Homo sapiens: one gene and its partners. The protein of the gene in region 1 purifies or fractionates together with the protein of each later gene. This does not show direct contact. Each region holds a gene or a part of one and is shown on either strand. Other genes may lie near its edges.

Evidence for each region.
Region 2: the proteins of PC (region 1) and CYP27A1 fractionate together in Homo sapiens (co-fractionation; one large-scale study listed by BioGRID). This does not show direct contact.
Region 3: the proteins of PC (region 1) and FANCD2OS purify together in Homo sapiens (co-immunoprecipitation; one large-scale study listed by IntAct). This does not show direct contact.
Region 4: the proteins of PC (region 1) and CAD fractionate together in Homo sapiens (co-fractionation; one large-scale study listed by BioGRID). This does not show direct contact.
Region 5: the proteins of PC (region 1) and LSM14A fractionate together in Homo sapiens (co-fractionation; one large-scale study listed by BioGRID). This does not show direct contact.
Region 6: the proteins of PC (region 1) and METTL2B purify together in Homo sapiens (pull-down; one large-scale study listed by IntAct). This does not show direct contact.
Region 7: the proteins of PC (region 1) and CIB2 purify together in Homo sapiens (co-immunoprecipitation; one large-scale study listed by IntAct). This does not show direct contact.

Annotation. Positions count from the first base shown.
Region 1 is NC_000011.10:66,867,884-66,871,383, reverse strand, and holds part of PC (pyruvate carboxylase, mitochondrial precursor), read left to right. Parts: coding exon 1-69; intron 70-186; coding exon 187-332; intron 333-491; coding exon 492-609; intron 610-930; coding exon 931-1,082; intron 1,083-2,419; coding exon 2,420-2,538; intron 2,539-3,500. UniProt on the Homo sapiens protein: Pyruvate carboxylase catalyzes a 2-step reaction, involving the ATP-dependent carboxylation of the covalently attached biotin in the first step and the transfer of the carboxyl group to pyruvate in the second.
Region 2 is NC_000002.12:218,788,647-218,792,146, forward strand, and holds part of CYP27A1 (sterol 26-hydroxylase, mitochondrial precursor), read left to right. Parts: intron 1-3,500. UniProt on the Homo sapiens protein: Cytochrome P450 monooxygenase that catalyzes regio- and stereospecific hydroxylation of cholesterol and its derivatives.
Region 3 is NC_000003.12:10,105,456-10,109,582, reverse strand, and holds the start of FANCD2OS (FANCD2 opposite strand protein), read left to right. Parts: upstream 1-1,327; 5' UTR 1,328-1,568; intron 1,569-3,045; exon of another isoform or gene 3,046-3,123; coding exon of another isoform or gene 3,124-3,142; intron 3,143-4,127.
Region 4 is NC_000002.12:27,223,869-27,227,368, forward strand, and holds part of CAD (multifunctional protein CAD), read left to right. Parts: intron 1-48; coding exon 49-161; intron 162-476; coding exon 477-622; intron 623-876; coding exon 877-1,008; intron 1,009-1,141; coding exon 1,142-1,375; intron 1,376-1,836; coding exon 1,837-2,058; intron 2,059-2,262; coding exon 2,263-2,451; intron 2,452-2,656; coding exon 2,657-2,781; intron 2,782-2,963; coding exon 2,964-3,094; intron 3,095-3,500. UniProt on the Homo sapiens protein: Multifunctional protein that encodes the first 3 enzymatic activities of the de novo pyrimidine pathway: carbamoylphosphate synthetase (CPSase; EC 6.3.5.5), aspartate transcarbamylase (ATCase; EC 2.1.3.2) and dihydroorotase (DHOase; EC 3.5.2.3).
Region 5 is NC_000019.10:34,221,004-34,224,503, forward strand, and holds part of LSM14A (protein LSM14 homolog A), read left to right. Parts: intron 1-483; exon of another isoform or gene 484-503; coding exon 504-735; coding exon of another isoform or gene 736-831; exon of another isoform or gene 832-3,500. UniProt on the Homo sapiens protein: Essential for formation of P-bodies, cytoplasmic structures that provide storage sites for translationally inactive mRNAs and protect them from degradation. Acts as a repressor of mRNA translation. May play a role in mitotic spindle assembly.
Region 6 is NC_000007.14:128,479,748-128,483,247, forward strand, and holds part of METTL2B (tRNA N(3)-cytidine methyltransferase METTL2B), read left to right. Parts: intron 1-899; coding exon 900-949; intron 950-3,500. UniProt on the Homo sapiens protein: S-adenosyl-L-methionine-dependent methyltransferase that mediates N(3)-methylcytidine modification of residue 32 of the tRNA anticodon loop of tRNA(Thr)(UGU) and tRNA(Arg)(CCU).
Region 7 is NC_000015.10:78,128,646-78,132,597, reverse strand, and holds the start of CIB2 (calcium and integrin-binding family member 2), read left to right. Parts: upstream 1-1,152; 5' UTR 1,153-1,382; coding exon 1,383-1,433; intron 1,434-3,952. UniProt on the Homo sapiens protein: Calcium- and integrin-binding protein that plays a role in intracellular calcium homeostasis. Acts as an auxiliary subunit of the sensory mechanoelectrical transduction (MET) channel in hair cells.

The DNA of each region.
Region 1 (3,500 bases):
GGCCAAGCCCAGAAGTGGTCCGCAAGATGGGAGACAAGGTGGAGGCCCGGGCCATCGCCATTGCTGCGGGTGAATATAACGGGCAAGCAAGGGGTGGCCCCGCAGCTCCTGGAGAGGGTCCAGCAGGGAGGGGTGGCAGGGATTCCCGCCTGTTACAGAGACTCCCCCACACCTTTCTCCCAACAGGTGTTCCCGTTGTCCCTGGCACAGATGCCCCCATCACGTCCCTGCATGAGGCCCACGAGTTCTCCAACACCTACGGCTTCCCCATCATCTTCAAGGCGGCCTATGGGGGTGGAGGGCGTGGCATGAGGGTGGTGCACAGCTACGAGGTGAGTGAAGATGCCCAGGGCTGGGAGCAGGGCAGGGCAGCCTGCCGTGGGGGCAGGGGCGGACCACTCAAGGGATCTGGAAAGTGGGTGGGGTTCATGGCAGGGGAGAGGTAGCGCTGTGGGGTCTGAGGTCTGGCTGGCCCCTGCCCGCCCTCGCAGGAGCTGGAGGAGAATTACACCCGGGCCTACTCAGAGGCTCTGGCCGCCTTTGGGAATGGGGCGCTGTTTGTGGAGAAGTTCATCGAGAAGCCACGGCACATCGAGGTGCAGATCTTGGGTGAGTGGTCCTGACGCCCCGCCTGGGGCAGCTGGAGGCGGGAGCTGAGAGGCCCAGTCCTGGTGCCGTCACAGTGGCTGGCCTTGGGGACAGCCCTGGGGCCTGTCGGGCGCTTTTCCAGAGGACTCTGGAAAGTGGGCTCTAGGGGCCGAGCTGGCAGTTGGTCCTCACAGCCTTGGTGATGCTGGTGTCTCTCCTGGCAGCCTCTGTACCGCTGGCAGCCGGCACTGACTGGCGACAGTGGTTATGTGGGGGTGATGGGGCATTTAGGAGGCGTGTAGATTCCAGTAAAAGCTAAGCCCAGTTTACCTCCCTCCCCAGGGGACCAGTATGGGAACATCCTGCACCTGTACGAGCGAGACTGCTCCATCCAGCGGCGGCACCAGAAGGTGGTCGAGATTGCCCCCGCCGCCCACCTGGACCCGCAGCTTCGGACTCGGCTCACCAGCGACTCTGTGAAACTCGCTAAACAGGTGAAGGGTGGGCTTCCCGTGTTGGGACAGGAGCCTGTGCTCACAGGCCGGCAGGCCTCACAGTGGGGCGCTGGTTGGGGAAGGGGACCCTGAGTCCCCTTCTGGGGACTGGGGATGGGGAGAAGAGGGTGAAGGACTCTCCTGGGGGCCAGAAGTGGGTTTGTGGCATCCTTCCCATGTGCAGTTGAGGCACCTGGCCCAGAGGCCAAGCTTAGAGTCCAGGATGGCTGAGAAGAGGGAGGGAAGGAGCCCCAGCCGCCTCCTCAGCCCTGCTGCTACACAGACCTGGCTTCTCTGTGGCATCAGCTCATCCCTGTCATCAGGAGAATGAGATTCCGTGGATTCTGTCAAGATTGAGGACCATTATGAAGGCAGTCCTCCCTCATGTGCTTCTGTCTCCTACATCATGTTTATTATGATCTGTTTCCTTGCTCTGCACCCTCTGCCCATCTCTGCTTTTCTGGGACCTCTGGTCGGGGGGTCCTGGGCTGTGGAGGAGGCTGAGGTGGCAAGCTATCTCCCCACAGTGACCTGCCCCAGGACTGGCCTGGAGAGCACCTGCTGTGGCCAGGTGTGCAGCGGGGTCCTGCCCCCTCTTCTTCCCTGGCCTATAGGCAGCAGAGGATGCGTCACCTCCCCATGCCGAAGGCCGGGGTGTGCACTCTGCAGCAAGGCCTCAGCCACAGCTAATGCGAGGCATCGACCAGGGTCGCGTTTAAGTCAGGTCTTATTTACTGGCTTATACTATTTCACATTCCAGAACAGGTTTAAGGGAGGTGATTCAGTCTGGTTTATCGTTTTGGTGAGACCAAAAGTGAAACTGGAATTAGGGCTGAAATTTGAGTTAGAGTCATTATCTGTTGGTACCTCTCAAATGAATTTCTTTGGGTGGTGGTGGCCAGAGGTGACTGCGCAGTAGACTAGAAGGGGACTTTCTGAAAACACCTCCAAGCAGAAGCAGCGGCTGGGAGAGGCCTGGGTCTCCGTGTCTGGGTGGATGACACAGCCTTGGCGGGCAAGCCCAGGAGGCAGCAGGGCAAGGTGCCGAGCCTGGGATGGGTGGGGGCTTCTGCCCATGTCTCGTCCCAGATAAGCTGGGTGCAGCCATCTGTGGCTCCGGGAACCCTGGAGCCTAGTGGACTACTTGGGGGACGTGTCCAGGCAGGAGCATGACCTGGGCCCTGGGGTCTGTCTGCCATCTGTGGGGGCAGGGTTTGCCACAGGCCATTCTTTTACGGAACCAACCCAATGGGTGGGACGGAATCCCTGTCCTGAGTCCAGTGAGTTTGCCCAGGCCCTGCCTGTGCCCTCCCCTGCTCACGTGGCCGCCCCCACAGGTGGGCTACGAGAACGCAGGCACCGTGGAGTTCCTGGTGGACAGGCACGGCAAGCACTACTTCATCGAGGTCAACTCCCGCCTGCAGGTGGAGCACACGGTCACAGAGGAGATCACCGAGTGAGTGTGGGCGGGCAGGCGGGGCGGGAGGCGCGGCTTCTAGGATTTGCATAAAGTACAGGCGAAGTGGCTCCTGGGGCCAGCCAGGGGGCTTGCTCACTCCCCACATTGGTGGAGAGCAATGGGGATCCAGGTACTTAGTGTTTTAAAAGTCATTATTCTAAAAGCATTACGTGGTTATTATAAAAATCAGCACAAAGGAGCAAATAAAAATGACTGACAGCCCTCCTCTCTGTCAGGACGCTGCCGATTGCTCAGGCCCAGGTGCTCCCATCTGTCAGAGGAGTAAAGCAAGGCTCAGAGACATTTGGAGAGTTGCTCGGGGTCACACAGCTGGCGCTGGAACCCAGGCATCTCCGGCTGTCTTTGGTTTGCTCCTTTCCCGGTTTACCTGTTTTACTAGAGACATAGTTTGATGCAATAGAGATGTTTTATATAGAATTTTTATTCTACTTTTCAAATTATTTAATATTTGTTGAAGGCATTTCCCCAGGCCATAATTCTGTCTGAATACTTTTAGTGGCTGCGTACTATTCCGTCTTGTGTGTATTTCTTAACTTACATAGTCCTCGATTGTTAGGCAATTAGTTTGTGTGTCTGGCTTTGGTGGTTATTAAGCGTGTCACTTATCATCTGTGTGCCTGAATGTTTGGCTTCAGCTCTGAAGAGTTCTGAGGGTAAACCCTTCAACAGGATTATCTGATTGAAGGATAAGTAGCATCCCTCGGAACAGCCCTCTAGAGAGGTGGCACTAGCGTGCTCCCTGCAGGCACTGAGGATGACATTTTCAAAATCCGCCTGGTTTCTAAATGACAGTCATGATGGCCCTCACCCTTCAAGGTCTCTACTATGAGCCATGTAATTTCTTGACGCTGCTTTGGGCCAGCCCATCTCACTGTGGAGCATCCCTGACCCCAGTTCTGCCCCCAGCCCCAACCCCACCTGAGACTGAGGATGCTGTC
Region 2 (3,500 bases), on another chromosome or scaffold:
GAAACCCTTTTGAATATACTTCTCTGGTGACTCTCCGTTAGGTTAATTATCTCTCTCCCTTGGACTGTGAGTGATAAATGCTGCCAAATTCTTCCTATTTGGCTTCCTTCTTCTGGATTTTGTTAACACCACTCCCATTCTGTTAACACATTCTTTCTTCAGTTTGACAAAAACCTTTGATTAGATAGATTTTCTTCCTTAGCACTCATGTTACCATCAGGCCTTCCAGAGATTATTGTCCAGTTACCTTGACTGGACTTAAGTGTTTTTCAGGGCCATCTGGTAGACATCTATAAAGTTGTCCTTGAGGATGTAGCAGAACAGGGAACATGGCCCAAAAGCCTCAGAGATGGGAATATGAAACTAAGTATTAAGGTGAAATATGTGTGAGTTATGCCAATTTAGCAATTACATTGCCAGAATGAATCATAGCAATTTAGCATTTGCCCTTACAGATAAACTGCTGTAGGCAAAGAGACATGCAAGAATATTCAAGGCAGCCTTATTTGTAGTCAGGAAAATTAGAATGATTTAAATGTCCCATAGTAGGGGGCTAATTAAATTATGGTACATCCATATGATGAAATTTCATGCAGCCATTAAAAAGGTTAGGGACAGATCTATTAATATTTATTGCTTGCTAAGAGATGGAAAGAACGTGTTGAAAAAGAAAAACTTTAGCTGAATTAAGTTTAACAGAGTTTAAATGAGCAAAGAACAATTCACAAATCAGACAGCGTCCCGAGCCAGAGTAGGCTCAGAGACTCCAGTGCAGCCATGTGGTGGAAGAAGATGTATGAACAGAAAAAGGAAAGTGACATACAAAAAATGGAAGTGAGGTACAGAAACAGCCGGATTGATTACAGCTTGGCATTAGCCTAATTTGAACACGGTTTGAACAGTTGGCCACCTCTGATTGGCCAAAACTTGGTGATTGGCACAAGAGTAGGCTACAGTCTGTATACAACTCCATTTACGTTATAGTTTGTAATGTGCTGAGAAACCTTTAGGCCAAACTTAATATATAAGGAGGCAGCTTTAGGCTAAACTTGAACTTGATTTAACAATTCCCCACTTTCGGTTATTTCAGTTTTAGAGGATGACCAAGACTTTACTCATTGATGTCATTATCACCATTGTAAATGTATTTATTTGGTCTTGGAACCCACTGGGAAATAGCAGAGCAGTGGGTTTTGTAAGGTGGGAACAAGGACTTCAGGTTATTTTTTTGTGAAGGTTAGAGTAGAGGGTACCTCCTTATGGTGGGATGTCCTGTTTACAGAAGAAAAACAAAACTTAGTCTGTTCTAGGATCTATTTGTTTCCTTAAAGTCTTAGTTTGATTATGTCACATTTAGCATAAATGACTCTATTTTGGTTTGGTGTGGTCTGTTGGAGGCTAGTGCATGAGCTTAGTCGAAAACAATGGCCTCCCATAATTTGTTTCCAATTTCTCCTCTTTTGGTCAGTTTCTTACTTAGGTAAGAGTATGAGCAAAACTTAGGGCCTTAGCACTGCTCTCAGTTACCTCATTTTGTGTTTCTGGTCTCAGCACATCATTCATAGGTTATGGTGCCTCTCATGGTCACATATATCTTTTAGCTCTTTTCATTCCAGTTGAAGAGAGACCATTTGACATTCTAGAGATGGCTGCATGCAAACATTTAAAACTTTTGAGAGAATACAGTGCACCACGGAGACTACTGTTATGACTATCAAGAGGATAATACCTAGAGTTTGGACTATGCTCCTTAGCCAGGTTCCCCATAAAACAAACCAACTAAAATCAAATAGATCAAAGAATCAGCTAAAGACTCTACTTGCTTTAACTAAGCAGTCTCTTTGTTAATCCCCTACAACTGAATCTCTAAAATACCAGATGTGATGGAAGTGCCAACAGCTGCATAGATACTTCCCTGTTTAGCCAGCAGGTAATCTAGAGCAATTCTATTATTTAGCATAACTTTCAGAAGAGAATTTTAAGTCTGTTGTGTAACCATATCCTTTACAGTAGAATCTGCTAGAGAGCCTATCATGAGGGATAAATTTCTTTCTTTCTTTTTTTTTTTTGAGATGGAGTCTCGCTCTGTTGCCCAGGCTGGAGTGTAGTGGCACGACCTCGGCTCACTGCAAGCTCCACCTCCCGGGTTCACGCCATTCTCCTGCCTCAGCCTCCCGAGTAGCTGGGACTACAGGGGTCCGCCACCACTCCCGGCTATATTTTTTTTTGTATTTTTAGTAGAGACGGGGTTTCACTGTGTTAGCCAGGATGGTCTCGATCTCCTGACCTCGTGATCTGCCTGCCTCAGCCTCCCAAAGTGCTGGGATTACAGGTGTGAGCCCCTGTGCCCAGCCAAGTTTTGTATTTTTAATAGAGACGGGGCTTCACCATGTTGGCCAGGCTGGTCTTGAACACCTGACTTCAAGTGATCCAACCGCCTCGGCCTCCCAAAGTACTGGGATGACAGGCATGAGCCACTGTACCCAGCTGAGGGATAAATTTCCAATCATTGCCTCATTTACTCCAAACCATGGAAAAAAGGACCTAATACATGATGCCCTTTGAGAAGAGTTAAGACCTCCTGGCAATGATCTTTTTAAACCATGATGTAGGTTAACAGGAGTGGACCAGTGCTCTGTTTCTGACAGACTATGAGGCAATGTATGTGTCATTAAAATTTCCCACCTACATTGGCCCTTTGTCTTCCATCTATCAAGGCATAAGGTTATCCATGTAATAAGGCTGGCTGCAAAATCTTTCACAAATAAAAGTACACCCCATGAGTGCACACAACAGACCCCCTTTTCACTTCTATTATTCGTAGGGGCATAAACAAAGAAAAAATTGAAAGATAAGAGTCTCGTGATAGTAAAGAAGTCTTGATCTGTGATCTTGGGAAAAAGTCTACATCAAGGATACCGTCTTCTTCTGGGGAGAAACTTCCCTGGTTAGCTTTACCTTAAGGTTTCTAATGGGTGTACAGTTCCAAGTATGTGGAGGGACCCTTCTGAGTTATGAAATTATGAACCCAAGGTTCAAGGTCTCAAAGTCTTGATGCAGTATGGATGGCAAGTGCAGTCTTTCTGTGACATTCTCAGAAGACCTACTCTTTGGGCTCTAGATTGTGAAGGGCTTCATGTCCTCAGTCAGTGAACCATGAAAAGCTTTCTTTTCCTGGTGAAAATACACGGTGGCATGATGAGCTACTGTTACAACATCAGTCCTCTTGTGTGGGAAAGCTTTTATACAACCAGACGACCTGCATTGAAAAATGACAATAGAATGAAATCCCTCTATAAATGTTTAAATGTCCCATCAGCTAGCGAAATGTACCTGAAATTTTTATTGTCTTCCCAGGAATATGGGTTTGACAAACCAAATATTGGTCATAAACTATTTTAGCAATGTAGAAGTCACTACACACACACACACACACACATTTAATTTGGATCATTTTATGTTTTTCATGATGAGTTATGGAATGCAGAACTTTTAATAAA
Region 3 (4,127 bases), on another chromosome or scaffold:
GTGACCCAAGATCAAGCCACTGCACTCCAGCCTGGGTGACACGGTGAGACTCCGTCTCAAAAAAAGAAAGAAAAAAAAAGAGGGAAATAAAAATGAACTAACTGGGGAAAAAAGTTTTGTAATTCAAAATCATTTGTGTCTCTTCCAAGTCTCACTATTCTGTGCCTCTCTCTTCATGTTCTGACCCGACATGCCCTCCAGACTCTTCTCCACTTACCTCTTCTTCCAAAAGGTGCACATGTACACACAGTGGGTGTGTGTCTTCTAAATCAGGATCTTGCCTGACTCTATTCTCAGACCCTCAGTCTTTCTCCATCAGCTTTACCCAAAAAACCAGAACAAAGGTGACAAGTCTTATTTGTGGTGTGTGTTCTATAGTTTGTAAAATGCAAGGGCAATTCTGGGTGTACAAGGGAAGGCCAAGTAGGCCATTAGTTACTTCCTCCCACAAATACTGCACACTGCCAGACATGGCAATAGCCAGGTACTGGGAATACAGACATCAGCTGGGTAGACTCCTCCCTTCCCTCAGCCATCCAGGGTCATTATTTTAAGTGATGATTACAAAGTTGTCAAATCACTCCTTCACTAATATGGCGAAAGTGTATTTCTGCATTATAAGAATGAGACAAAATCATTCTTTTTGAGATTTTTTTGTTTTCTTTTTGAGCTGGGAATCTCACTACGTTGCCCAGACTGGTCTTGAACTCCTGGGCTCAAGCAGTCTACCCATCTCAGCCACCTAGATAGCTGGGATTACAGGTACTCTCAGGTTTAACGCAAGGCTGAGAAAGGTTTTCTGTCAGGAAATCAAGGAAAGACGTGCGTTTCCTCCTGCTCTTGACAGGTGAACATTTATTAATTCTCTTTCTTTGCCACTGGGATCATTCAAATAGAGCAACAAAACCTGACAGAGCTCTGGGTCACTCTGCCTGAGCACCCACTGAGCAGAGTGTGATGAGTTGGGACTAACTTTTAACACTAACTACAGGTCCTGGGACTTTTATGCAGGCCTCTGACCATGGCCATTGAAGTAGGGGTCGCCTGTCCTCTGTGGCTTGATCAAAGGCACACAGGTACACAGGTGTGGCACGGTAGGGAGGAGGACAATGGAGGGGACAGGATTCGGACCAGCCCTCCTGAAGGCCAAGTCCTGGACAAGGCATTCCAATGAGGTGGGGGCGGGGAGTGTGGCCCTGACGCCTCCCAGTAGGGCGCCTCGAGCCCCCATCCCCGCCGCGGCTCGGGCTGCCCTGCCGTCCTGGGTCACAAAGGCGGTTGCCAGGCGCCACGAACAGCGGCCGCCACTTTGGAGCGTGAGACCCTCAGAGTTCAGCAGGTGAGCCCCGGGCCCGGATGGTGGGACTGGGCCCAGGTTCCCACCGCATCGTCCGCCTCAGCCAGAACCTTCTGGTCCCCGCCCCCGGATAGGGACCCAGGAGGCCCAAGCCCCTTCTTCCGGCGGGGAGTGGGAGCCTCTCGCACTCTCGGCAGCTCCAGACCCTCGGGATCTCCGTTTACAGTTCAGGACCTCAGCTGCACTTTGGCGCTAACGCCCTGTTTCCCAGGTGGGGAAATCAAGAGATGGGGTTCCTTGGAATGGGAAGTGGGGTGTGAAGGGGAAACCTTTTTGGCCAGGAGAATCAGGTGTTCCATATCTGGGAGCTATTGAGCAGCTTGAGCAGACTTTGTAGGTTCAAGCCCTTCTGGAGTGGTTGACAGTGACTTCTGGGCGGTGGGGATGGGGTGAACCATCTTTAAACTTTGTGCGAAGAGGTGCAGGGACCTAGGTTTAGAAGCGCTCTCGTCCCATGTTGGTTCTGCCGAATATTTAGGCTGACTCCTGACCTCAAGTGATTGGCCCGCCTTGGCCTCCCAAAGTGCTGTGATTGCAGGCCTGAGCCACCGCGCCGCGACCTAGGCTGGACATTTGACAAAGACTTTTACTTCTACCTCTACTTCCTCTTAGAAGATGTGGCAAGAAAAGGATCCGGGGGGCCCGGGCCCGGTGGCTCACGCCTGTAATCCCAGCACTTTGGGAGGCCGAGACGGGCGGATCACGAGGTCAGGAGATCGAGACCATCCTGGCTAACACGGTGAAACCCTGTCTCTACTGAAAATACAAAAAAATTAGCCGGGCGTGGTGGCAGGCGCCTGTAGTCCCAGCTACGGGAGGCTGAGGCAGGAGAATGGCGTGAACCCGGGAGGCGGAGCTTGCAGTGAGCGGAGATCGCGCCACTGCACTCCAGACTGAGTGACAGAGCAAGGCTCTGTCTCAAAAAAAAAAGAAAGAAAGAAAGAAAAGGATCCTGGGATTAAATACTTTTTTAAATCCCATATTCTGGGATTAAAAATATGCTTGACAGCATTCATACCCTCCGCCCACCTTGCCATGGTGGTGTACCACAGTAGTCCCTCTCTTGGATATGTGCTCTGAAGGTCAAGATATCAAGCACCAGAAGCCTTTCACAGGGTGTTTGGAATAGATAACTGTCCCTTGGGTGTCCCTTTCTCATTCTAAGGCAGCCCAGATATTTGAACACTTAGTACTTTGCAAAGAGCCTACATAGATCATGAGAAACATACTAGTTGGAGAAAATCAACAAATCCCCCTATACTAACCATTGTCAGGAGCAGGTCTTCTGGTCTGAAATGTCACCAACGTTTTTTTCTTTTTTGAGACGGAGTCTCCCTCTGTCACCCAAGCTGGAGTTCAATGGCTTGATCCCGGCTCACCGCAGCCTCCATTCAAGTGATTCTCCTGCTTCGGCCTCCTGAGTACCCGGGATTACAGGCACCCACCACCACGCCTGGCTAATTTTTGTATTTTTAGTAGAGACGGGGTTTCACCCTGTTGGCCAGGCTGGTCTTGAACTCCTGACCTCAAGTGATCCACCCACCTCGGCCTCCCAAAGTGCTGGGATTACAGGTGTGAGCCACTGTGCCCGGCCAACAGTTCTTTTTTTAAAACGAACTTTTCTATCTCACAAACGGCGGTGAAGGTGTCAAAATTTTCACAGTATTTCTGGGGCAATTACTGGATAGGATGAGATCTGCTGCTATCTTCTGTGGGAGAAGAAGGGGCAGAGAAATACACTTGGCTAGAAAGAAAAGGGACCTGCTATGCCCACTAACAAAATAGGTACGTGCTAAAAAAAATTAGCTTCTGAATTTAGTAAAACTTCTTATATACTGGCAATGTTGAAGGAGAATGATGGAAAATTCTAATTTTACTTGCATAAATTTTCAGTTAGCAATATCCTCACAGCCCTTTTTAATCTTCAAAGGAAAAAGAAAATTAAGGTCTTATGGAACCAGTAGGTCTTCCATAGATGGAAAACAAACAAATCAGAAAAACAAATTTAAAACCACACCCACACCTAGAAAAACAAAAATCTTTAACAGTTTTTTGACTGGACTTTGGAAGTGTTTTCTCCCAGCCTGGTGTAGCTCCTCTGAGGTGGTATATAAATAACCCAGGGGTCTGCAAGTTGCTCCCTTGTGCTAGAAAATGCAGAGGCCTTTGGGGCCAGGAGATGATCTCAGTAATGAATAGTGAAAGCTAGAGTTGTTTGAAAGGAATAGCATAAGAAATTCTCAAAATAGACAATGCAAGAGGGCTTATATAAATGCAGATTGCTGGGTCCCACGTGGAGTTTGTTCCTGTTGGTCTGAGGTGGGGCCCAAAAATGTGCATTTCTGCAAGTTTCCAAATGATGCTGAAGCTGCTACTACAGGGTTCATACATCGCGAACCTCAAAATATATATATATATATATATATATATATATATATATATATATATATATAATTTTTTTTTTTTTTTTTTTTTTAGATGGAGTCTTGCTCTTTCACCCAGGCTGGAGTGCAGTGGTGCGATCTTGACTCACTGCAACCTCCGCCTCCTGGGTTAAAGCAATTCTCACACCTCAGCCTCCCCACAGAGCTGGGACTACAGGCATGCGCCACCACGCCCGGCTAATTTTTGTATTTTTAGTAGAGACAGGGTTTCACCATGTTGGCCAGGCTGTTCTGGAACTCTGACCTCAAGTGATCCGCCCGCCTCAGCCTCCCAAAGTGCTGGGATTATAGGCATGAGCCACTGTGTCCAGCCACAAATATTTTTA
Region 4 (3,500 bases), on another chromosome or scaffold:
GTCATGCCAGGGACCATGATGGTTTTCATGATGCAATCTCTTCAATAGTGTCCAGTTTCACCCAGAGCACCAAGCTGGCCCTTCAGATATGGAACTGCTTTTCGATATCTTTCTGGAAACTGTGAAAGAGGCCACAGCTGGGAACCCTGGGGGCCAGACAGGTAAGATCCTGAGTAGAACTGGGTTGTGGACCTAAGAACAGGGTTGGCTCCAGGATGGGCATAAGGTGGACATGCCCTGGGCAACTCCTAGATGTCTAGGAGGTTAAGGGTATTGGGGATGGGTGGCAACCAACCCAAGATACCGTTTAAGCTTCTGTTGAAAGGAACTCCAGGGTCCTGGGTTCTGGTCCTCCCTCTGCTCCTCCTGAGGTGCATAATTTGCTCTGGACTCTTCTGAAAGCGAGGGAGCTAATCCAGTTGACCTCTTGGGTCCAGCTCAGCTCTAACATTCTACGACCTTCTTTGCTTCCACAGTTAGAGAGCGGCTGACTGAGCGCCTCTGTCCCCCTGGGATTCCCACTCCCGGCTCTGGACTTCCACCACCACGAAAGGTTCTGATCCTGGGCTCAGGGGGCCTCTCCATTGGCCAAGCTGGAGAATTTGACTACTCGGGCTCTCAGGTGAGGCATGTTCCTCCCCACCCTTCTGGGCGTGTGACCCTCAAGAATGGAAAGGGTCTTAAGGAGAAGGGCTAAGGTTGCAGGGAGGAAATGAACCAGATTTGGGGAATGTAGAGAAAGATGTAGTAAGAAATAGAAGTCAATTATTAGGGGCCAAGAGTACAGGGAGGGAAAGAAGAGGAGAATGCTACTCTAAGGCTGTTTGCAATTTTGCTTCTTCAGCAGAGGCTGAGATGCCATTCTTGTCCTTTTAGGCAATTAAGGCCCTGAAGGAGGAAAACATCCAGACGTTGCTGATCAACCCCAATATTGCCACAGTGCAGACCTCCCAGGGGCTGGCCGACAAGGTCTATTTTCTTCCCATAACACCTCATTATGTAACCCAGGTATGACTGGGGCAAGGCTGGAATGAAAAGAGGACTGGGCAGGGGGGCCCAGTGGTCACTGTGGGTTATTAAACTTTGATTGCCTCTCTACCCACAAGGTTCTGATGCCTGTAACTCCCCTCTCCATCCTCAGGTGATACGTAATGAACGCCCCGATGGTGTGTTACTGACTTTTGGGGGCCAGACTGCTCTGAACTGTGGTGTGGAGCTGACCAAGGCCGGGGTGCTGGCTCGGTATGGGGTCCGGGTCCTGGGCACACCAGTGGAGACCATTGAGCTGACCGAGGATCGACGGGCCTTTGCTGCCAGAATGGCAGAGATCGGAGAGCATGTGGCCCCGAGCGAGGCAGCAAATTCTCTTGAACAGGTTGGAGGGGTGTTTGGGTAAAGGAAGAATGGTGGTGTTTTTTTTGGTAGTGTTATTTTCTTTTTTTTTTTTTTTTTTTTGAGACGGAGTTTCGCTCTTGTTGCGCAGGCTGGAGTACAGTGGCGTGATCTCGGCTCATCATAACCTCCACCTCCCAGATTCAAGCGACTCTCCTGCCTCAGCTTCCTGAGTAGCTGGGATTACTGGCATGCGCCACCATGCCCAGCTAATTTTGTATTTTTAGTAGAGACGGGGTTTCTCCATGTTGGTCAGGCTGATCTCGAACTCCTGACCTCAGGTGATCCACCCCCCCGACCCTCGGCCTCCCAAATTGCTGGGGTTACAGGCGTGAGCCACTATGCCCAGCCATGTTATTTTCTTTATATCTTTTTTTATGTGGGACAGGCACACCTTGGACAGTAGGAAATAACCTGTTTGTTCATCTCTTCCACTCATTGCAGGCCCAGGCAGCCGCTGAACGGCTGGGGTACCCTGTGCTAGTGCGTGCAGCCTTTGCCCTGGGTGGCCTGGGCTCTGGCTTTGCCTCTAACAGGGAGGAGCTCTCTGCTCTCGTGGCCCCAGCTTTTGCCCATACCAGCCAAGTGCTAGTAGACAAGTCTCTGAAGGGATGGAAGGAGATTGAGTACGAGGTGGTGAGAGACGCCTATGGCAACTGTGTCACGGTGAGTGAATGGGGGAAGGGTGGGCGTCGTGTCAGGCAGGATGAGCTTTTGGAAGAGCAGAGGCCCAGGCCAAGGTCTTTGAGAGTTGTATGTCCCTCAGACCCAGGTTAGGTGCAGCCCCAGAGGTAACAGGACCCTGGGGTGCAGCCTTCTGCCTCTCCTGACTCTGCTTGGCAGTGACCTCCATGGCACCCCCCTTCACAGGTGTGTAACATGGAGAACTTGGACCCACTGGGCATCCACACTGGTGAGTCCATAGTGGTGGCCCCTAGCCAGACACTGAATGACAGGGAGTATCAGCTCCTGAGGCAGACAGCTATCAAGGTGACCCAGCACCTGGGAATTGTTGGGGAGTGCAATGTGCAGTATGCCTTGAACCCTGAGTCTGAGCAGGTAAGCTCTAGGCCCTGGAACTGATAGTCTAGTTGTTACCCCCTCTTCTTGTATAATTTTTGGCCCTTGAGGTTGAGGTCTTTTGGGCTTACAGTCCCTGGAGTACAAGCTGGAATCTTCTTTACTAGGTTACTTTTCTCTCCTTTCTGAGACCTCTCCTAGACAGGGTCTTCTAGGCCAGTGACTTTATTCTCCTTCTTTGCAGTATTACATCATTGAAGTGAATGCCAGGCTCTCTCGCAGCTCTGCCCTGGCCAGTAAGGCCACAGGTTATCCACTGGCTTATGTGGCAGCCAAGCTAGCATTGGGCATCCCTTTGCCTGAGCTCAGGTACGAGGATGAGGGAGATATCACAGTGGGGAAGTGGGTCGGGGGCTGAGGAAAATATTGATGGGACAGGGAATATGAAAAGGACATTGGCCTGGATTTGTGGGAATGGAAAGAGCTATCCGGAAGCTCACCCTTTATGCTTCCTTCACTGTCCTTCTGGCATCCCACCTGCTGGACCCCAGGAACTCTGTGACAGGGGGTACAGCAGCCTTTGAACCCAGCGTGGATTATTGTGTGGTGAAGATTCCTCGATGGGACCTTAGCAAGTTCCTGCGAGTCAGCACAAAGATTGGGAGCTGCATGAAGAGCGTTGGTGAGACTCATGCCCTGGGCACCCCCATGGGGCCCCACCATGACCAAGAATCTTAAATGTCAAGAGTTCCCTGGCATGGCCTTTTACGTCCTATGGGAGCAGGTGCTTGAGACATTTCAAACTAAGATTATAGTCCTTGTCAGGAGTTGGGGAGGCATCTGGAAATCTGTGTTGGAATACAGAATCTCTGGGATAGGTGCAAGCCATCAGACTATCTCATCTCATTTTTGCAGTATCTCCTCCTCTGGCACTTTGTGCTTTGGTCACTAAATGACCTTTTTTTTTAGTATGATGTTTACATCAGAGCAGGGCATCATAAACCTTTTTGGTAACAAGGAAATTTATTAGTGAATGATGAATGGCCGTAACGTTACCCAGCAGTGGCAGAGCATGTTAGAATTGAGTT
Region 5 (3,500 bases), on another chromosome or scaffold:
ATGAAGTTTAACAGAATATTACAGGAACATATTGAACTCATATGCCATGAACAACTCGTGATAACTTAGATAAGATGCTTTTTTTTTTTTTTTTTTGAGATGGAGTTTCGCTCTTGTCACCCAGACTGTAGTGCAGTGGCTCGATCTCGACTCACTGCAACCTCCACCTCCCAGGTTCAGGTGATTCTCCTGCCTCAACCCCCCAAGTAGCTGGGATTACAGGCACCTGCCACCATGCCCAGCTATTTTTTGTATTTTTGGTAGAGAATGAGTTTCACCATTTTGGCCAGGCTAGTCTCGAACTCCTGACTTCAGGCGATCCGCCCCCTCGGCCTCCCAAAGTGCTGGGATTACAGGCGTGAGCCATCACGCCTAGCCAAGATGCTTATTTCTAATTAGCTTTAGTAATTACTTAGGCTTAATTTGGGAGTAGCACTGCATATTTTGGCTGAGGGATATTCTTTTAAACCTGATATGCTGAAGATTATTTGCTTTTATAATAGAGAACGGAGACCAACCTGGGCTGAAGAAAGAAGATTAAATGCTGAAACATTTGGAATCCCACTTCGTCCAAACCGTGGCCGTGGGGGATACAGAGGCAGAGGAGGTCTTGGTTTCCGTGGTGGCAGAGGGCGTGGTGGTGGCAGAGGTGGTACCTTCACTGCCCCTCGAGGATTTCGCGGTGGATTCAGAGGAGGTCGTGGGGGCCGGGAGTTTGCGGATTTTGAATATAGGGTAAGTGTTACTGTTAATAAATTCTTTGGGGTTGACATGCATTTTACAAGACTCAAAACATTTTTACTTGTTTTTGTTTTGGGTGAATTGTTTTGAGGACATTAGAATAACTTCCATTTTGACTTTTCAGTAGAGGATATACGTGATTCAGATGTATATATAAAGACATTATACAAAAAAAGACAGTATAGTATCACCTTTATTTCATGTTAACAGAATATACTTTTAACACCCAAAGAGTCTATCTAGGAAGCACATACTCCCAGAATGGAAGGGCAAGCTTTAACATTTAATAGCAGTTAACATTTATATAGTATTTACCAAGTAACAAGACATTGTTTTAAATATTTTTTTACATATTAACTTATTTAAACTGCACATCAACTCTGTGAGGTAGGTTCTATTATTATCCCCATTTTACAAGTGAGGAAATGGGTATAGAGATATTAAGTAACTTGCGAAAGGTCACATAGCTAGTAAGTGATGGTGCTGGGTGTTGAGCCCAGCAAGTTGTTTCCTGAGTCAGTACTCTTAATTTGGTTTTGTTGAAAATTCACTACATTTTCCCTGGTTTTCTCCTTTCACCATGAAATTGAAAATGTTTCGATATATTGGCCTTCAGGAGCTACTGCTAGAGAATTCTGTAACTCTGTATAGTAGCCTTATGTGTATAATGTAGCTTTTGACAGGTGTCTGTAAATTAAGTCAGCATAGTAACTATCTCAGTTAACAGTAAACTATCTTAGTTTATTGATTTTAGAAGTAGTGGAGAGGAAGGGCTATAACAGAAAGGACCAAAATCTTGTAAAGAGTTCCACTTGTAATAGCAACAGGCAGCTGGAAACAGAAAGACCTGTTAGCAGGAGTTCCATTGCCCAGTACTTAAAACTGGCCATTGTTGAGATCTCTCTGGAAAGAGATCAGTATTAGTGGCTTTTGGACCTGCTCTATTAATTTTAATGCTTTTGATATTGTGCCATCACAGCCAAGACTGCCAAAAATTATACTCAAGTCACCAGCTTATGCCATCCAGCCGTTGGTGGCCTTATGTAGTTGCGGGACTTCTGACTTGCAAAATCACCTTCCCAGCTAGGAGAATCTGTCTTAGGAACTCCAGAATAGCCCTCGCTTATCACTGTTACTGCCCTTAAGTTTGCCAGTGACACCTTGCTTACAGAATTCAGCAGTAGTATTTTCACAAATATTTTATTTGCCATTAACTCCTCTGCAATATTTGACACTGACCAACCACCCAATTTGGGGTCTTTCTTCCTAGTCTTTAAAATACTCTTCTAGGTTTTCAATTTATACTCTTCCTAATTTTTTAATACTCTTCATTCTTTTTTTTGGGGGGTGGAGGGTGTCAGGGTCTTGCTGTGTCACCCAGACTGGAGTGCAATGGCATGATCATAAGTCACTGCAGCCTCAACCTCCCAGGCTCAGGCAGTCCTCCCACCTCAGCCTCCTATGTAGCTGGGACTACAGGCATGCACCACCATGCCCAGCTAATTTTTAATTTTTTTTGTAGACACTGGGTCCCACTCTCACTATGTTGTCCAGGCTGGTCTTGAACTCCTGGGCTTAAGCGATCCTCTCACCTCAGCTTCCCAAAGTGCTGGGTTTATAGGTGTGCCATGGTGCTTGTTCCATCCTCCCTTTTGTAAGCCTGTCCTGGACCCTATGTGTTTCTGCACCGCATCTCTATCTGCACTGTTTGCTGTCAGCTTAACCTTCCTCAGACTGATCTCATCATCTTCCTTCTCTCCTGTCATCTCAGCTCTGCCTCCTCCCAGTGTTCCATGTTGGCTCATGGTATACTGCCCAGGCACTAGAGGTATCCATGATTGTGGCCTGTTGCCATTTATTCCTTTGAGATGTCCCTGTCAACTACCATGGTAACCCACCAGTTGGGCTTCAGACCTTCGTCTCTCTTTACCCCACTTTAAGGCAGATCAGCTACATTTTGAACAACCTGTGACAACTCCTTGTTGAAGACCACATTGAGTCAGCTTGGTCTGAGAAAAAGTACATTTAAATTAGACTTGGATCCAGATGAGAATAATAGCAGTAGTTACTAGTATGACCTTTCAGACCCTTGGTTTTGACATTTGTGAATAAAGAGTTGCACCATTTATTCTGAAATAACACCTTTTAAAGATCATTAAACTTTCAGAGTTGGAAAACATCTGAGAGGTCTGACCTGGTTAAAACATAAACCTCTTCTGCAGTATCTCTTATAGGGGCTGGGAGCTTACTCTTCCCAAGGGCATCCATCCCACCCCAGGGATGTTCTAACTGTTACAATCTCAGCTGGGCGTGGTGGCTCACACCTATAATCCCAGCACTTTGGGAGGCTGAGGTGGGCGGATCACCTGAGGTCAGGAGTTCGAGACCAGCCTGGCTAACATGGTGAAACCCCGTCTCTACCAAAAACATAAAAAAAATTAGCCGGGCGTGGTGGCACACACCTGTAATCCCAGCTACTCGGGAGGCTGAGGCAGGAGAATCATTGAACCTGGGAGGCAGAGGTTGCAGTGAGCCGAGATCACGCCACTGTACTCCAGCCTGGGCGACAGAGCAAGACTCCGTCTCAAAAAAAGGAAAAAACAAACCTTCCATGCAGTAACTGTGTGTGCTCCATGTGGTTACTAATACAAACATTTTTTTGACACCATGTCACACTGTTTATCATTTTGAGCCTTTTGTAAAACTCGTATCACATATATTGCAGAATTGAAAATGCATTGTCATAGTTACCTCCATGC
Region 6 (3,500 bases), on another chromosome or scaffold:
CCAAAAATTGTATTAATAGCATCATGCTGTACCTGTCACATGACACTGTATCATACAGGTGAAAGAGCTCAACATGATCATGCTATAACTCTGGAAAAATGTCCCAGATCAGAAGAAATTGTTGCTTCTCTTCTAATACAGTTACAGGAATGGAGAGGGTAGTTAGGATGGTGCCTGTTTCTTAGGCCTGGGATAATTCTCTTCCTCTGCATTTGGATGGTGTTGCAGAGTCTAGACCTGGAAAAATGTCTAGATTGGTATAATGTAAATTCATAAATGGGGACTGCGCACGTTACTGGAAGCTGGTTCTGGAACTGGTTAGCCTTGGGATTGAGTCCTATGGTGTGATCTTAGACAATTTCCTTACCCTCTCTGAGCAGTGAGACTGCTGCCTCTGCACCTTATACTTATGAGGATGGAGATAATGTATGTAAAAGGGCTAAGAACAGTATCTGGCACATTGTTAAGCCCTTAATAAATAGTTGCTGTCTTCATTACCACGCAGCACTGTGTTTAGGACAAGGTTGTCAAGGTCCCCTTTTCATACATTTTTCAGCACAGTCTATTACAAATATTTTCACAATAATAATATAAGCTTAGTAAGAAAATACTTCATCTACAGGACAATTTGCTAGAACTCAAAAGATAAAAGCAATCCTTGCCCTTTTTTCTAGACCACCTCGTTTCTGCTAATAAAAACCCATGTTCTTGTCTTTTAAGGGTTCCTGAAGTCAACATCAAAATCAACAAATGTCATGGGTACTGTTTAGCTCTGGTCACTACACCTTCCCTAATACAGTTAGGCCAGATTCTTGTTGATTATTATTTTTCTAGCTTTTCTAGCTTTCGGGAATTAACTCTGGAAAGTTCTGTGATTAATAGTTCATTTCTGTCTGCAGGTTGGCTGTGGTGTGGGAAACACAGTCTTTCCAATTTTACAAACGAACAAGTAAGTATGTTGTAAAAGTTTATGATAGCAAAGAAGATAAAAGTGAAGGTTGGCTGGGCGCATTGCTTCACGACAGTAATCCCAGCACTTTGGGAGGCCAAAGCAGGATTGCTTGAGGCCAGGAGTGTGAGACCAGCCAGGGCAATGTAGCAAGAAAAAAAAGTAAAGATTTTTTCAAAACTTGCTGCATCAAACTATCAATAATGGTTATTGGAAAATATGGATTATGTCAGATTCAGATTTCTACATTGTTCATTTATGGATTGTTTTAATTTGATTATCTTTATCATTTGGAAAATTAGACTTAAAACTTGCTAGTGTTAACGTTTAGTGCCTTCTTCTTCTTCTAAGGAACAAATGTGTTCAACTTTTCCATTCTCATGATCTCTGAAGAACAGTCAGTGGCTGAGTTGTCATTACCCCCATGGTAGAGTTGAGAAAGCTATCATACATGAAGATGTCTCCTGTTCTGATGAAAACACACTGGTTTTGTGTACTTAAGCAGAACGCTTCTGACACCAAATGTGCAGGGTTTTTGCCAACACTGACCAATTCAACAACAGCTGGGTGTCCTACAATTCAATTCTGACACTGTCTACTTGGAGTTGGTATCAGATCCCACAAGTTAAGGGTTCGGTCCCAGAAGACTGCCCCCCACTTCAGATGCCAGTTGTGAATCTGGCCCTCCGTGTTTCTGCCCTACAGGCTGTAAATCAGGGGAGCCCTGTCTCCAGTTCAATAATTTCCTAGAATGGCTCACAGAACTCAGGGAAACACTTTACTTACATTTATGTGTTTGTTATGAAGGATACAGATTAACAGCCAGCTGAAGAAGTAATTAGAGTGGGGTTCAGAGGATCTCACGCTCAGGAGCTTTGACCCTGAGGAGCTCAGTGCAGTGTTCTCCTAGCACACGGATGTGTTCACCAACCTGGAAGCTCATCAAGGGTTTTTTTTTAGTTTTGAGACAAGCTCTTGTTCTGTCATCCCGACTAGAGCACAGTGGTGTGCCCATAGCACACTGCAGGCTCAAACTCCTAGGCTCAAGCAATCGTCTCACCTCAGCCTCCCAAGTAGCTGGGACTACAGACACATGCCACCATACCCAGCTAATTTTTGTTTATTTTTTGTAGAGACAGGGTCTCACTTTGTTTCCCAGACTGGTCTCAAACTCCTGGCTCAAGTGATCCTCTTGCCTCGGCCTCCCAAAGTGCTGGAATTACATGCATAAGTCACCGTTCCCAGCCTCAAGAGTTTTTATACAGCTAGGACACAGACTTATGGGAAAATTAATTTTAAAAGGAGAAGAAGAAAATAGTTTTCATACAACATAATCTGCATTTCTATTCAGGACATTGGTGGGTGAAGCTGAAAGTTCCAATCAGTTTGCCCTTACTAGTGTTGGCCCCACCCCAGGTCATCTCATTAACATAAATTCAGTGTGGTCCTGAGGGAGTTCATCATGAATAACAAAAGATACAGAGTCTTGCTTCATCTCCCAGGTTGGAGTACAGTGGCACAATCTCGACTCATTGCAACCTCCGCCTTCCGGGTTCAAGTGATTCACCTGCCTCAGCCTCCCTAGTAGCTGGGATTAAGGGTGCATGCCACCACACACAACTAATTTTTATATTTTTAGTAGAGACAGGGTTTCACCACATTGGCCAGGCTGGTCTCAGACTCCTGACCTCAGGTGATCTACCTGCCTCGGCCTCCCAAAGTGCTGGGATTATATGTGTGAGCCGCCGCGCCCAGCCTGCTGAGGAAATTCTTAAGGTTTTTGGAACTCTGTGCCTGGAACCACAAAGACCAACACCAAATATATTTATTATACCATACCTGTTTTGTTTTGTTTGAGACGGAGTCTTGCTCTGTTGCCCAGGCTGGAGTGCAGTGGCGTAATCTTGGCTCACTGCAACCTCTGCCTCCTGGGTTCAAGCGATTCTCCTGCCTCAGCCTCCCAAATACCCGGGATTACAGGCATGCGCCACAATGCCCAGCTAATTTTTGTATTTTTAGTAGAGATGGGGTTTCGCCGTGTCGGCTAGGCTGGTCTCGAACTCCTGACCTCAAGTGATCCACCCACCTCAGCCTCCCAAAGTGCTGGGATTACAGGCGTGAGCCATGGCTCCTGGCCCTATAGCTGTTTTTAAACCCCTTGTGGAAATGACATTCCAGTTCTGTATTCATTACTGGAATCCACTGTTTCTCAAAGGTTTCATATAATATATACTTTGCCAATTTAGCCCACAGTATTCATTAACAGGATTAAGTAAAACATTAGCCTCATTACTAATATACATTTAAATATTTCTACAATTTGTTCTCAGAAATTTCTAAGAAAATGGCAAGTCCTAGTACTAACACTGAAGAAAAGAGATTGTTCTACTCTTGAAGTTACAGTCTGAGGAACCCACCTCAAATGGGAGATTGACTTAGCTTCAAGTTATGGCCATTAATCATCAATATCATCAATGAATGTAAAACTGAATGTAGATGGCATCTTTGCCACAGCCTCTTTATGCCATTTAAATAAGATCGCTGTGTTCAG
Region 7 (3,952 bases), on another chromosome or scaffold:
TACAAAAAAAATACAATAATTGGCCGGGCGTGGTGACTCAGGCCTCTAATCCTAGCACTTCGGGAGGCTGAGGCAGGTGGATCACCTGAGGTCAAGATTTCGAGACCAGCCCAGCCAACATGGTGAAACCTCTCTCTACTAAAAATACAAAAAAAAATTAGCTGGGTGTGGTGGCATGCCCCTGTAGTCCCACCTACTAGGGGAGGCTGAGGCAGAAGAATCGCTTGAACCCAGGAGGCGGAGGTTGTAGCGAGCCAAGATCGCGCTACTGCACTCCAGCCTGGGCGACAGAGGGAGACTCCATCTCAAAAAAAAAAAAAAGTATTTAGATTTTGCCAGTTCTCAGGGTCTTCATTTCCTTATGAGGGCTTCCACGTCATGTAAAACTTGTATTAAATCTGTTTTTCTCCCCTTAATCTGTCTTATGCCAAATTAATTCTCAAGCCCAGCCAAAGACCCTAGGAGGGCAGAGGTAAAGTCCTGCTTCCCTTACAATGGCATCTGCTTAAAAGCTCCAAAAAATGTCTTGGCCTTTGTCACACTTCTGTGGACACAGTCAAGTCCTTTAAATCCTCTCAAGTCTCACGTTTGTAACCAAGCCAAGTAAATCCTGTCCTGCTCCCTAAGGAACACAGAAGGTCTGAGATGCCCTGCCTAGGCCGCGCCCAAAGGCCAGATGGGCTTCCCGAGGCCTGGCCGGGAGGGCCTCAGATGTCAGCTTGACTGACCCCCTCCTTCTCCCCAGAGGGACAGGGCCCGGGTAAGGGCTTGACCAAGGTCGCGACGCGAGACGGTGGCGGAGCCCGGCCCCAGCTAGATCCACGCACTCACAGTCCTCGCTGCCGCCCCCGCCCCAGGTCAAGGGGCGCCACTCGCCCCACTGCCCGCCTCGAGAGGGTTTTTTCCCAGGCCCCGCACCCTCACGCCGTGCGACCTGGACTCCCACGGCGGGACCCGGGCTCACACCTCTTCCTGCTGCGGGGCGGAGTCGCCGCCGCTCCGGGTCTTTGTCCCCGCCTCCGAGACCCCCGCGCGCCCCCAGCACTTCCGGCCGCGGGAGCCAAGGGTTCGTGCCGGGCAGCGTCTCCCGGGGCCAGGTCGCCTCCTGCCGGGACCCGGGCGCGCTGCAGCCGCGGAGCCGGGTGCCCCGCCCTCTTCCCGCCGGCGGCGGAGTCGCTGCCGCTCCGGGTTCCCGTCCCCGCCTCCGAGACCCCCGCGCGCCTCCTCCAGGCGAGCTGCGGGGCGGGAAGGGTCCGGCCACCGTGGGCCGCTGCCAGCCGCGGGGCTGCCGAGGGCCGCGGGCACGGGGCGCTGGCTCCGGGTCTGGCGGCCGCTGATGGGAGTCGGAGCCCGGGCGGGCGAGCGGCGGCGCGGCGGCCACCATGGGGAACAAGCAGACCATCTTCACCGAAGAGCAGCTAGACAACTACCAGGTGAGCTCGGCGCGCCCGGCCCCCAACACAGGCCCCGCCGCCCCGCCGCCCCTCCCTTTTCTCGGTCGCTGGCCGAGGCCTCCCGAGAGCCAGCTCTCCCAGGTTCAAACCCTGCCTCTGCCTTCAGCTCGACGCGTGACCTTGGGCCGGTGACTTCCCCTCGCCGTGCCTCAGTTTCCCCACCGGTGGAATAAGAGCTCTTTCCAGTTGGAAGAACCTCTCAGGCGCGCCTCTCTCCAGCTACTCTCGCCCTAGGCAGGACCCGAACCCCTCTCCAGCCACCCATTCCAGCGCCCATCTGGCCCGGAGAGGGAGTCAGTAAACTAGGCTGGACGGAGGACCGCCCTCCCCGCTCCCTGCCCCCCAGCCCCAGGAAGGAGCCCAGGAGAGCGAGTCTCTGTAAAGCAGAAATGAGAGCTGGCGTCCTGTCTGGTCTAGGAGTGGGGTGCATCAGTCCCCACATGCAGTCTTCCCTTGGGACTGTCTTGTTTATCGGCTGGGGTTCGCTCCTTCTGACCCCAGCATGGAGATAACTGGAGCAAGAACGCAAGCCCGGTAGCAGCCTTCCAGGGCCACCTCTCCCAGCTCCCTTAGGCCCTCAGTAGCCACCTCCTTAGACCTTTCTAGGTTTTCCTGCCTCCAGAGCCAGCTTTCCAGATCTGGAATCCCAATACCGTCCCACCCAGGTAAAAACTTCGCTGTGGTTGCAGGATGAAGCCCAACCCCTTGGCTTACCCGGAGCCCTGGCCAATTGCTCAGCTTATCTCTGCAGCCTCAGTCTCCCCAGGTCCCTTCCCTGCCCTCTGCATGGCAGCCGCCTTAAAACCATTTGCAGTTGCTCCAGCTCACCAGGCTCATTCCTCCCTCCCTCTCTCCCTCTGCCCATGCCATTTCCTGGGCCTGGATGCCTTTCCCCCCTCCAGAGGATCTCTTTCACCCTTCAAGTCCCACATCTGATGCCTCTCCCCTGACTCCCCAGGCGGAGGGGGCAGGATTGTGTTGTGGCCTGTGTAACTGGGCAGGAGGAACACCAACAGGGTCTCCATAGGCACTTGTTGCCTTCATCAGTGCTTACTTTGGCTGTGAAGGAAAGCAGGTGTGAAGTGTGGGTCCTCTGATGTGGGTGAAGGTAAAACAAAGGCCCCTTCTCCTCCTAGAAGCCCTAGTTGTCAGTAATGGATTTCTCAGCTCCCCAGGTGAGGCCCTGGGAAGGAAGAGGGGAGACGCATTTATGGAGCACCTGCTGTGTACCAGGCACAGTAATTGATGCCCTCTACGCATCAACTCACTTGATCATCACAGTGAGGTGGATTATTAGCCCATTTTACAGACGTGTAAACAGAGGCTGAGGAGCCATTCAGGGCTCACACAGGATTTCGAATCTTGACTCCTAGGCTCACTTCTTTAGTTGGGAGTGGGCTGGGCTGGGCCATGTGTGCTTTTTGTTCCCAAGGCACTCAGTCTCAGACACTCAGAGACAGACTCTCACCTCCAGTGTGTGGCCCTTGTGATAGAGGCAGGTGGTGGAGTGTGTTCTAGGGAAGGGCACTAGTGGGCAGTGGGAGGCCAGCAGGGAAGGGGGACAAAGTCCAGAAACGATACAGCACTTGAGCAGGCCTTGGGAAGATAGGTCGGGTTTTGCCCAGTGGGGCCCAGAGGAGGCATTCCAGGTGGAGGGGACAGCGTGGATAAAGGCTTGGGAGTGGGCAGGGGCAAGCAGGCAAGCCATGCTCAGAAGTGAGGAGTAGCTTCATGGGGGTGGGGAGCCCAGGTTCCCACTCCAACCAGCCTGGCATTGGGTTACTCATCGGAGCCAGTCCCAGTGTTATGTTCTGATTCTTTGCCAGAGCCTAGCTAGACCCTGCCAGGCGGGGTGGGAGAAATGAGAGCTGTGAAACCTGAGAGCCCCACATCTCCTACCCTCTGGCTCTCCAGCCAGCCATTGCCAGCCCGGGCTGAGTGGGGGTGAGCCTGAGTTACAGCACCCTCTCCCCTAAGTGACACCTAGGGTTTCTTGGGACCTCCCAGCCTGGTAGTCTAACCTTTCCTGGGCAGGGTGCACCCTCTTGGTTCCCGGTGCCGGTGATTCCCAACATTTAAGCTTCTGTCCAGAACACTCCTCTGCATTGTACGGCCATCCCCCAGACCCCTCAAACTCCAAAACAGGGGTCACAGCCTCTCCAACACCCACTGCTGCTCCTCCAGCCATTTCAACTCTCTGCTCTCCCTCAGCCCATGTTTTCAGTTAAGAACAAGGCCTGTGACTCAGCCTCTTTTGTGGGTCACCTGGAGGTCCCCTCCTCCATCACGACAGCCAGGGCCCTGGGCTAGGCCTGCTCAGTCTCCTGCAAACTGGAGGTCTGACTGCTCCCTCCTGCGCCCCTCCTGCCCATCCCCCTCCAGCCACCCGCCCTCTTAGTTCTCTCACTCTTCCTTCATCTCTTTCTTTCTCTTCCTTTTTTTTTTTTTTGAGACGGAGTCTCGCTCGCCCTGTCACCCAGGCTGGAGTGCAGTGGTGT